2 separate regions of the Homo sapiens genome follow, and region 2 is linked to region 1. The links come from fine-mapping of genetic effects on gene expression. A gene starts in region 1. The other region holds a variant in brackets. All regions are shown on one strand. Distances are between the middles of the regions.

What was found. PIP is the estimated chance that this variant, and not a neighbour inherited with it, causes the effect.
Region 2: its variant is fine-mapped to the expression of ADD2 in whole blood (TOPMed, PIP 0.98).

What each region holds. Positions count from the first base shown.
Region 1 is chr2:70,766,027-70,771,398 of GRCh38, forward strand. It overlaps ADD2 (adducin 2), which reads right to left and starts at 2,174. Exons shown (of 16, transcript NM_001617.4): 1 at 1,860-2,174. RefSeq lists enhancers at 1,309-1,874, 1,875-2,440, 2,850-3,414.
Region 2 is chr2:70,659,441-70,664,812 of GRCh38, forward strand. ADD2 (adducin 2) reads right to left here. Exons shown (of 16, transcript NM_001617.4): 16 at 1-4,295. The coding sequence ends at 3,985. Among named protein-coding and RNA genes, the nearest start is that of ADD2, 110 kb to the right of the region's middle. The variant A/G (reference allele first, on the strand shown) is at 2,926.

The DNA of each region.
Region 1 (5,372 bases):
TTTGCTAATTCCAACACTATACTAATATTTAAAACAAATTCAATCCAAGCCTAGAAACCACAGCATATCATGTCAGGCATTGTTGTACATTGTGTATATGACAAGCATATTTCTAATAAGGCTAGGCAATTTGGTGGACAAGAAAGAACATAGGGCTTACTACAAAATTCTTATGGATTTTGGATCAAAGAATAATTTATCTTTAGTGGTTTTTCAAAATGTGTTGACATCATACCAATAATGAAAACTTTGCTTTTACTTGTGCCCTATGCAGGGAGGAGTAGGGAAGAAAGGCTGGGCAAGATCCTGATCTATAGGAGAAAAGTCTCTACAGAGAAAAGTTTGATCACATTACACAATTAAAGTAGAACCTTATAAAGTAAAAATATTAAATGGTCTAAACCCCCCTTTTAAGTCTCTAACATATATTATTCATATGCTAATGGAGATATTATTTGCAAGTCTGAAACGTCATAGTTCTCTTCTTTGGTCAGATTCATTTAAAACACTTTTACTTCAAATGCTGACTTGCTATTTTTCTCTTAAAACGGAACATAATTTTCTAATGCCATTAATGAGAACACCCCTCACTGCACAAGTTAAACATCTCAGGAATCCCAGCTAGATCCACAAACTAGACATGAAAGCAGTTGCTTGCACCCTCTCCAATCCCTTTGCTTCTGCCAGGATGCCAGACCAACCACTCCTTTTGGGTTACTCGGGAAGCACGAAATGTGCATTTAGGAAACTGAGATTTGATTTCTATTATCGATAAAGCTCATCTGAGTCAGTTGAATCTTAGACGACAAACAGCAAGAGGGAAGAGTGGGTGTAAGGAAACAGATGGGTATTAATCATGTGTCAGAGATAAATGACAGTTTTTTAAAGAATTTGATAGGGTGTGGGCTGGAGCTTGCTTTTTTATTTTCTATTTCTATTTCCTATTTTCTATTTTTAGTTTTGGGCAAGAGATGGAGATTAGGGGTGAGAAAAGGAAGGAAGAGAAAAGGCAAGACAATAGGCCAGACCCGAGAGCCTGATCTGCATCCTAAAGCAGTCTGCCCCTCCCTCCCTTCCCCCCAACACCAGGTAGGCTGTGGTGTGATTTAAAAATAAGCAGACACCGACTCCCGCCTCCGGGACCGGGGATGGCCTCCGCCCCGGCTGCAGAAAGGGAGGGGAGGCAGGGAGAGGAGAGGGAAGATGGAAGAAACAGACTGGCAAGACCCCCTCGGGTACAGTGGGATTTTTCCCTCCAAAGTGGTGGAGCCGCATAAAATCAAAACCCACGAGGCCCGCTCACGTGCCGGTTGCCCCGATCTCAATGTAGGCGGCTGCCGACGCCGCACCTGCTCGGCCGGCCACTGCGGCTGAGCGCCGCGCAGCCAGCGATCGCGAGGCCCCGGGGGACGCGCCCAGCCCCGCCAAGCCCGCCTCGCACCGCTACCCCGGAGGGCGGCGGCCGAGCGGGAAGGAAAGAGAGGGGAGGGGAGGGAGGGGAGGGGAGGAGCGGCCCCGCCCGGCTAGGCGAGGCGAGGCTTGCCGCCCCTCCATTCGGACCCAAAAGAAAGCCCCACCTGTCAGGCGTTACGCTCCGGGCGAGGGTCCCACCATCCCCAAGCAGGGGCCAGTGCTTGCAGCCCCGATTTCCTAAGAGCCTCGGATGCTACATCATCACCAGAAACCTTTAGGCGCAAAACACACCGCTGCCGGCCAGGGCTGCAGCACCGACGCGCTCGGCAACAGACGCGCCCCACCTGGGCCAAGCGGCTCCCGCCCGGCCGAGGGATGCCAGGGTCTCCGCGCCAGGAGACCAGCGACCCCAGGCAGCCCACCAGGCCCGCTCCCCAGACCCTTACCTCCTGCGCGGCATCTTAGCTATCTCCGGTCGGCCACTGCGGGTTGGTTTTGTTATTTTATGGGTTTGGGGGGTGGGGTGCGCTTAAAAAATCCACCCAGCTAATCTGCAGGGCAGCGTTTTCTGCCCATGCTGCAGCCCGCGCTCGTCAGAGCTGCTGGGAGATCCCCCAGCAGTGCAGCGGCTCCGCGGCGGCGGGGATGACTGGCCACCGACGCCGCAGTTCCTTGACAAAAGGCTCGGGTTCCCGCTAGTCCCTCACAGCCCTGCCGTCAGAATTAAAGCCATTTCCCGCACGAGGCTGGGAGGAAATGAGAGCTCTCCTGGCCCTGCGCGCTGACAAAAGGCCGCTGCGCGGTGCCCACAGCGCCCCCTCCAGCAGGCCGCGCCGGCCGCCCGAGGGCCGCGGTGCTGCAGTGCCCCCGCCCGCAGCGCCCCCCACCGCCCCGCAGCGGCCTCGCCCCGCAGCACCCCCACTACCGCCCCGCAGCGCCCCCCTCCTCCCCGCAGCGCCCCCGCCCGCGCCGCCGCAGACCCCCCTAGCCAGGCTTCCAGCCCCCTTCCACCCCCGCCCCGCACCACTCACTACCCGGGATGGCCAGAGCTAAGCAGGGGAGTCTGTTACTAGGGAGAAAATCTGAAACAGAGCTCCCTTGGGGGAATGTATTCTCCCTGGAAGGAAGAAAGCAAAAGTCTTAGACTTGGAATATTTCTTTTCGTCTGGAAAGGACAGCTAGCCTTCGGAAGATAATTCTATTAGTGATTTTAATAGCAATTGTTTGACTGAATTCCAAACCAAAATTCTCCCTGTCCTGATTCTCACTCCTTTTCAACCAGGACAACATTTTTGTTGTGGCCCTGCCCTTGGGGGCTGTGGACCCAACGCTCTCCAACTCTCACTACATTCTCCTCTCACTCCTTTCCTTCCTCAGGTCTCCCGCCCCAGAAGGAACAGGTGTGTAGTGAGTGGGGAACTGGATAGGGAACCAGAATACTTCGGTTGCCGTCTCAGAGCTGCTCTTAACTAGCTGTGAGACCTTAATCAACCCACTTAACCTCTCTGGGCCTCGTTGTCTTCCTCTGTAAAATGACAGTGTACCTAAGGCACCTCCCATTTCCAATACTTTCAAGGCCTGGCCCTCAGAGAGTAGGGGTGTTAAGAGATAGCTCTGGACTTTTCACCCCCATAATCTCCACCAGTCCCCAAAACTCCCCTCAATCAACATCCTCTCCAAGGGCTTTTGAAAATGTGCTTGTGAAAATGTACAGCTTCCAGAAAAGCCTCTGGCCACTGATCTGAAACCTGATCATGGCCCCTCTGCCCTTCCAGGTTCTGGGGCACCACAGCCCTCAGACACCCCCACAAAAGTCACTGGCCCCCACCACAGTGCTGCTGTGGAACCAGAATCTCTGGAGGTAGGCTCAGGATTGGTAATTTTAACAAGCAGCCCTAGTGATTCCTTTGCACACTAACACTTTAGAAACACCACTCTGAGAGCTACTACTGATTTAGAAAAGAAAATGCTAACGACAACCCTAGATGCCAGGATAAACTTGTCTTTCTGCTTCAGCCCCCCTTCCAAGAAACATACATGCATACCTGGTCCCTGCACCCTCCTTCCACACTCAGAGCTTCTCACTCATTCTCATTCAGAATCACCGAGTCCACAAGACTTCTCCCCATTCTCCTGTCAAAACCTGCTAGAAGAATTACAACAGGCTCAGCCACACAAGATGAAACCCCTTCCCCTCCCCACCCCAGGACCTAGGTCTGTCTGGTCAAAGAAGCCAGGACGTGTTATGTTTATTGAGTCATTCCTGGCAGCCATAGCTCTTTTGGTGCTAATGGGTGATGAGATCTGAGAAACAGGGAACCCCTTCTCCAGAGCTCAGAAGTCACAGGTAAGGTGGGCTCTATATCTTAATAGAACCCCCAAAAAGAATGGAGAATTTTTGTTAGAAATAGCAGGTTTCATAAGTCACCCCAGTCATTTCCATCCCCCAAAATTTCTCTTCCTAGTGTGTTATTTTGTTTTCTCACATGAATCCTAGCAAACCCTTGTTGGTTCCTGGCACTGTTCTGAGAGCTTTACATGCATTTTCACATAATCCTTGCAAAAACTCTGTGAGGGTGGTACTATTATCATCCCCATTTTATAGATGAAGAGACTGAGGCACAGGGATGTTAAGTCGCTTGCCCTAGGTCACACAGCTAGTGGGTGGCTGAGCAATGAATCAAACTCAAGTGCTGTGGCTCCAGAGTTTGTGGGCCCTAACCACTACACTGCATGGCCTCCCAGAGGGGACAATAAACTTTTTTTTTTTCTTTTGAGACAGAGTCTCATGCTGCCCCCCAGGCTGGAGTGCAGTGGCATGATCTCAGCTCACTGCAACTTCCTCTCCCCAGGTTTAAGCGATTCTCCTGCCTCAGCCTCCCGAGTAGCCGGGATTACAGGCACGCACCACCACACCCAGCTAATTTTTGTATTTTTAGTAGATATGGGTTTTCACCATGTTGGCCAGGCTGGTCTGGAACTCCTGACCTCAGGTGATCTGCCCGTCTCAGCCTCCCAAAGTGCTGGGATTACAGGCGTGAGCCACCACGCCTGGCCAAAAATAAACTTTTTAAAGCAGAGCTGGTACAAGACACTGAAAGGCTGATAAGACTAATACATTCTCCTTCCCCCCGGCAAAAAAAAAAATGATTCTGCTCCCCTAGTCATCACAGGAGATACATATATATATTTATGTTTATATATGTATATATTATATATATTACATATACACAATATATATTATATATATTACATATATTTTTATATATATATGTCCGGCCTCTCCCAGGGTCTATCTGATACTGCATACTGAGAAGGTGGTGCCATCCTGGGACTTTAGGAATTGTCCAAATGTCAGAGAGGAAATAAGACTTCATTAATTCCCATATTCATAGCCTATATGAAATTTTAATTGAAGTTCCAGAAATTCTCAATTTCAAATTCACTTCAAAATCCAGGAAAAGGAACCACAACTGTAGTTGGCTCCAACTGTCAATGGGAGACCAGGAGACTTCAGAGCTCCCACTGCAACAAGCCCAAGATGCCTGGCCCTTAACTGGGGCCAGAAAAACACAAGAGACCCCCATGTCAGACCGGGGAAAAATCACAGCTGGCTAACCCTCCATGGCCAGATAGTTTAAAATTAGACTCTCTGACTGATTTGCAGTAAAATTTCTCATCTTCCAAGTCTTCTGACAAAAATGTTTCTGGCCAAGAATAACTAGTAGAGAGAGAAGCTGGCAGTGCAACAGTGAGCCCCATCTCCTGGTATCCATTGCCCTGTGTATTACCCTCTCCTTAGGTGCTGGCACGACTGTGGCTCACTTCTAACCGACAGGATAAGGCAAAGATAATGGGATGTTCACTTCCGTGATTACATTACATAAGATTCTTTGTCTTGCTAGCAGACTGTCTCAGTTGGCGTCTTGACCTGCATGCTTTCATTAGTAGCCATGTTT
Region 2 (5,372 bases), 110 kb before region 1:
CAGGGAATGGGATTCAAATTCAGTCTACATGGATCAGTGGCAGAGGGCAGTGCTTTACAGTGGGGTTCTTACTGTAAGAACTTACTGCTCTTCATCCAATTTCCCCCAAGTCCTTTAAAAAGAACTTATCTGTTCACAGAGGAAGAACCCTGTTTTAGTTATAGGAGAGTGGAGGGGGTCAACTGGCCAAAGTAGGACAGTTACTTGGGTTGCATGCAGGCCAGGAGGCTCTTAGGGAGTCCAGATCTGGGCTAGAAGGTGTCTCTTTCTGCAGTTTGGGAGGAAGGTCACATGGTATGGACGGTTCTCTCACACCACTGTTGGGTGCAGCCAACACTACGCAAGGAGCCGTTGGAGCCAAGCCTGTCTCTGCGAAACCACTAATCCTTCTTGTCCTCTCTCCTCCTGCCTGCCTTGCGATGGAAATAAGCTCAGAAACCTCTCCACTTCCCAGCTCAGCCAGCCACAGAGCAGCACATTGGTTCAAATGTTACCCTTTTCTCTGGCACATCCAAGCACAGTAGCTCAACCAGACATGAACCTACTGCCCACCAAATCTGAGCTCTTGAATACACATTTTCTCCAGTCAGATATTGGTCAAAGTTTTCAGCCAACTTTTATCCACAGCCAAAGAAAATGGCCTTTCCTTTCTAATAGCCTGTAGATTTGTTTGGACCACATGTCTGTTTCTGTAGCATTTGGTGCATGTCCTCAAGCCTGGAGCTAAATGTGCCACATTCTGTGCAAGGGAAGAAGAAATGGCAGGATGGCTGGACACCTCTCCCAGCAATTCTACACCAAGACAAAATAAAACTGGAAACATTAGCTCTTTGAATGCTCCCCTCTCCTTGTTGAAAATCCCTCTTAAGGTGCTTTATCCAAAGACTTTTATGGAAATAAATTTTGTGTTGGAAACTCACTATCTGCTGTAGAGGAAACATCGTGTAAAGCAGGCCATCAACTATGTTTTAGTATTGACATTTCAAAAAGGCCTCATAGCTCCCATGCCACCATCCCACGCCCATCCAGTCCACAGTCTCCATTCAGCCACCAAAGGGATTTTCCTAAAATGCAATTCTGATCATGACTCTATCCTGATTTAAAGGCTCCAGTGGCTCCAAACCCCTTCCATGACAAGTCTAGCTCCTCCACACTTCCTACCAGTTTCCTTAGGATTCAGCCCTGCCTACCTATGAAGGGACCCCTCAACCCCTGAGCTTCCACATCATGCTCTGGCAATGCCACGTTGCTCAGCGGAACCCATCATGGCATTTCATGCGTCCACACCTTTGCACATTCTTCCCTCATTGTGGCATGCCCTGCCAATCCTTTCATTCTACTGGAAATTTACTCTTTGTTTTAAAACCTTAGCAGCCATTGCTTCTCTCAGGGTTTCTCTGGTCCCCAAGATAGTTAATTGATGCTTTCTTATGCCACCTTGGTACCCTTGCCTGTTTTGCAATTTGTCTATACACCTCCTATGCTCATGAACTTCTTGAGGGCAGGAACTATGCCTATCCTCATGCCTGGCCCTTGACCCAAGCTCAATGCATGTTTTTGGAATGCATGAGGAATGAACCAACTGACAGGTTCATCTATCAATAGAAAGTGGGCCCATGGCATAAATTCCCAGAATAATGCTGCAGCAAGACTCCACCCAATGAGGCCTAAGTGAGGCCTCATTGTCAAGGGAATAGAGTGTGTTGAATGCAGAGGCAATCAACATCACCCCCGAAGTAGAACAACTCGCACACAAAAGGCTGCATCAGAGGTCGTGTTCACCATTCTCACAACATCGTTTGCCACTTATTATTCTAGTCATAATGATGGCTCTCTTTCAACGTCAGCATAATGCCTGGTGCTCAGTGGATCCTTAACAAATACCATGTAAGGATAAATGAATAAGTGTGAAATCTACTTTTTAAAAGAAGGCATCAAGGGATTGGCTTTTAAAGGCATTTCCCATATGACAGATTTTTCTGAGGCATGAGTGGGTTGTCCCTCCTAAAATTTGACCCAATCAGGAAGTAGAACAGAGATGGAGCCTGGGGTAGCAGTTAGGAATCTGCACTAGAGAGACACAGTGTCAGGTTTACCTTGGTCCTAGGTCAGTTTCCTTCCTTCTCAAGAAATAGCCAACTATGGATGGTATTTCCCGCCCCAACCAGAAGGCTCTTGCCTCTCCTTTGTCAGAGGCACACAGTAGCATCACCACAGTCCACATTGACCAGGAACTTCACGTGCAGTGATGAGGATGAGCACAGGGTGTTCCCTACCTTTGCTTCACGTGCTAACATTATGCAATGGAGAACAGTCATAGAGACAAATCCTGGATGAAAACCACCACCCCTGGGGATTAAAGTTGTCTGTTCACCATAGCTGTTAAGAGCAAGGGCTCTGGACTCAGACTGACCTGGATTCAAATCCAGGATCCAGATCTTTCTAGCCAAGTCAGCTGGGACAAGTCAATTATCATTTTAGGGGGTCAATTTCCTCACCCACAAAATGGGAATGATCTTACCCCCCTCAAAGGATTACTGTGAGGGTTAAAGAATGTAATGTATGTGAAGCCTGCACAGTGTCTATAGATAGCAAGTGCTCAAAAGTGGAAAACTATGATTAAGAACTTTCAAAAATATTTTCACGATAGTCAGATCAAAAGGAAAAATATTCTTTCAAGACACGGTGCTTTCAAGAGAATGGATTGTCTAATTTTTAGGAGCCAACAAATGCTCATTAATCAATGCCCCACGGAAGAACATGAGAAGACAGTGTTGGCATTTAAAACAATAACTGTGGCCATTACCAGGCCCCAGGATGGACAGATAGGGACAAGGACAGGGATACCCAGCATTTCTCTGAGAGCTGGTGCAAGAGGATTAATCCTGAAGGGCTCATTTCTGATTCTCCTCTGCTGGACAAAGA[A/G]TGACTGAGTTGGAACCTCAGAGGGTGCAAGTCAAGGTGCCAAGAGTAAGATGCCAGTTTCGGTCTGTAAGCAAGTGTTTCTGGGGGTGAGGGAAGGTCAGGGGAAACCTGACCACTGGACAGGAGTGAGGCAGGTACAGTGCATTGCTCCAGGTGTCATGCAAAGCTAGAAAGTCAGCATTTCCTCTGTTGTTTTGATCCTCCTTATACAACCCAAAGCCAACAGAGGATTTCAACTTCCCCAAATTTCTGCCCTGAGCATTAAACAACTTTTTCCTATGCTAAATTTGGTTTTAGTTTTGAAGTGCCTGAGATGCACAATTCAAAGGGGTCAAGTTCCTGGCCTCTTATGTTGATGAAACCATCCCCAATCCTCAGCTTACATGGCTTGCCCCTATGCCTACCACCTCTTATAGCTCTTCCATCCATCATTCAAGAGGTTCCATGAAGAAAGCTCAGGGTTAATGTTTGGGGTAGTACAAGCTAAGCCATCAGCCCTTGGGAACAAAGATTACTTTCTGTTGGAGGGGTCAATTTGGCTAGTCACTTTGAGCAGCAGGGCAGGGACCCAAAGTGGAAAAGAGAAGAGATTTTTAAATGTAGAGATAGCTCCATCCACAGGAGATTGGATTCCTGGGAAGAAATGGACCTTACTCAGGGGAAGCCTTGACCTCTGATTTAGTCTGAGCCTGTGAGAGCTCACGGCCCATTTCTGGCCTTCTTGCCCTAGGCTCAGATTGGTGGACAGCATCCAAACAAAGGCAGCCCACAACTAGGCAGTGTTGTGTAGTAGAAGGAGCACTGGACTGGAAGTCAGGAGACCTGAATTCGAGTGCAGGCTCTGCCGCTAACTAGCTGTGTGACCTTGGGCAAGTCACCTGATTTCTCTTGGGCAACTGTAAAACGAAGGGTTGGTCGGGTGATCTCTAAGTTCCCCTTCCGAATGTGGTCCAGGGTCCTACTCTATCCCTCCTTAGCCCTGTGCTTGCAGGGACAGAGATGGGAGAAGGGAAGGGGAGGAGAGAGAGGAGGCAGGAGGGAGCCCAAGGGTGTCATGAATCAGGACTCCACTTTCTCCTTCTTTTTGCTCTTTTTCAGGAAGGAGGGGGTTCGGAATTTCTTTTTCTTCTTTGAGGGAGACTTGGAAGGTGAGCCCTCTGGGGACATGGGGCCGCTGGTGACCGACTCGGTTTTGTCCTTAGAGGTATCAACATCCGTGTCAGCACTGGTGGTCATCTGGCTCAGGCCTTTGCTGAGGATTTCCTCTGCCGTCTGCTCCTCCTCCCTCCCGTTGACCACCACCCCTTCCGGCTGGGTTGTTTCGGGCTCTGTGGTGGCGGCTTTGCTTGTTTCTGTCTTCTTAGTACCTTCTAGAAAAAGATCAAAAGATATGACCTGTAAGATTTCATTCAGGTGACAGCTTCCACCTGGGGCTAACAGAACCATTTCTAGGGAATTCTATAAAATCAATCCAGAGCGAGGGGAGGGCCAGCCTGATGTTGAGGGATGGCTACCAGAGACAGATGGAAGGACTGGGTTCTGATCTGCACCTTCCATGTGGCCTGTCCTGGGAACACCCCCTTGCAGGCTGGCAGCTCTGGGCTCTTGTCTATGAATTTAGATGGATATTAATGTCTGAAGTGGCAGGAGGCCCGGCTGGGGTCCAGCTCAGAGTTTTTCTAGGCAAGAAAGAAGAAACAGACACAGAGAAAGGAGAAGGCGTGAGGTGTACAGCTTGGTGGAGACATCTAAGCATTGCTGTAACCAGTTTAGTTTCACCAATAAAAACATGGAAATTACATGTCCTCAAACCCATTTCATTTTCTACACCAGTGAGGAACTCCAAGAAATATGGAGAATATCTTCCCAGTAGGCAGAGGGAGAGTGGAATTCCTTATATAACACAGACCCCATATTTCCAAGACATGTTAGTCAAAAGGGGAAGACCCCTGGTCAGCCCTTTCTAGCAGCCACTGGGGCCCCCAGGTCTTTATTCCACCTGGGAATCTGTCGGGATCGCGGGAATGTTCAAGGCCAGAGTTACTCAGGCCCCAGAAACCAAACCCTCCTGCCACCCTTTCTCCCCCTCCCCACTCTCACTCAACCTTGCTTCCACACAACCTTTCAGATGCCTGGATGGGGTGAGAGTCAGGGAGATTGTAAAACCACAGACTGAAAAGTAGAAAGCAAGGTAAATATTATCTGATGCCTCTCCTCCCCACTGCACAGTTAAGAAGGCTGAAGAACACAGTACCATGGTGGGCAGACCTCGGCTTACCAACTTCCGGTTCAGCTTCTTCTCACGACGGGAACTGAAAGGAGTGTGTGTGGGTGAGCACGTGTGAGTGTGTACAAGTGTGTGTGAGTGTGCAAGTGTGTGTGTGGGTGTGTGAGGGTGTGCAAGTGTGAGTGGGCAGGTTGTGTGTGGTGTAAGTGTGTAAGTTTGA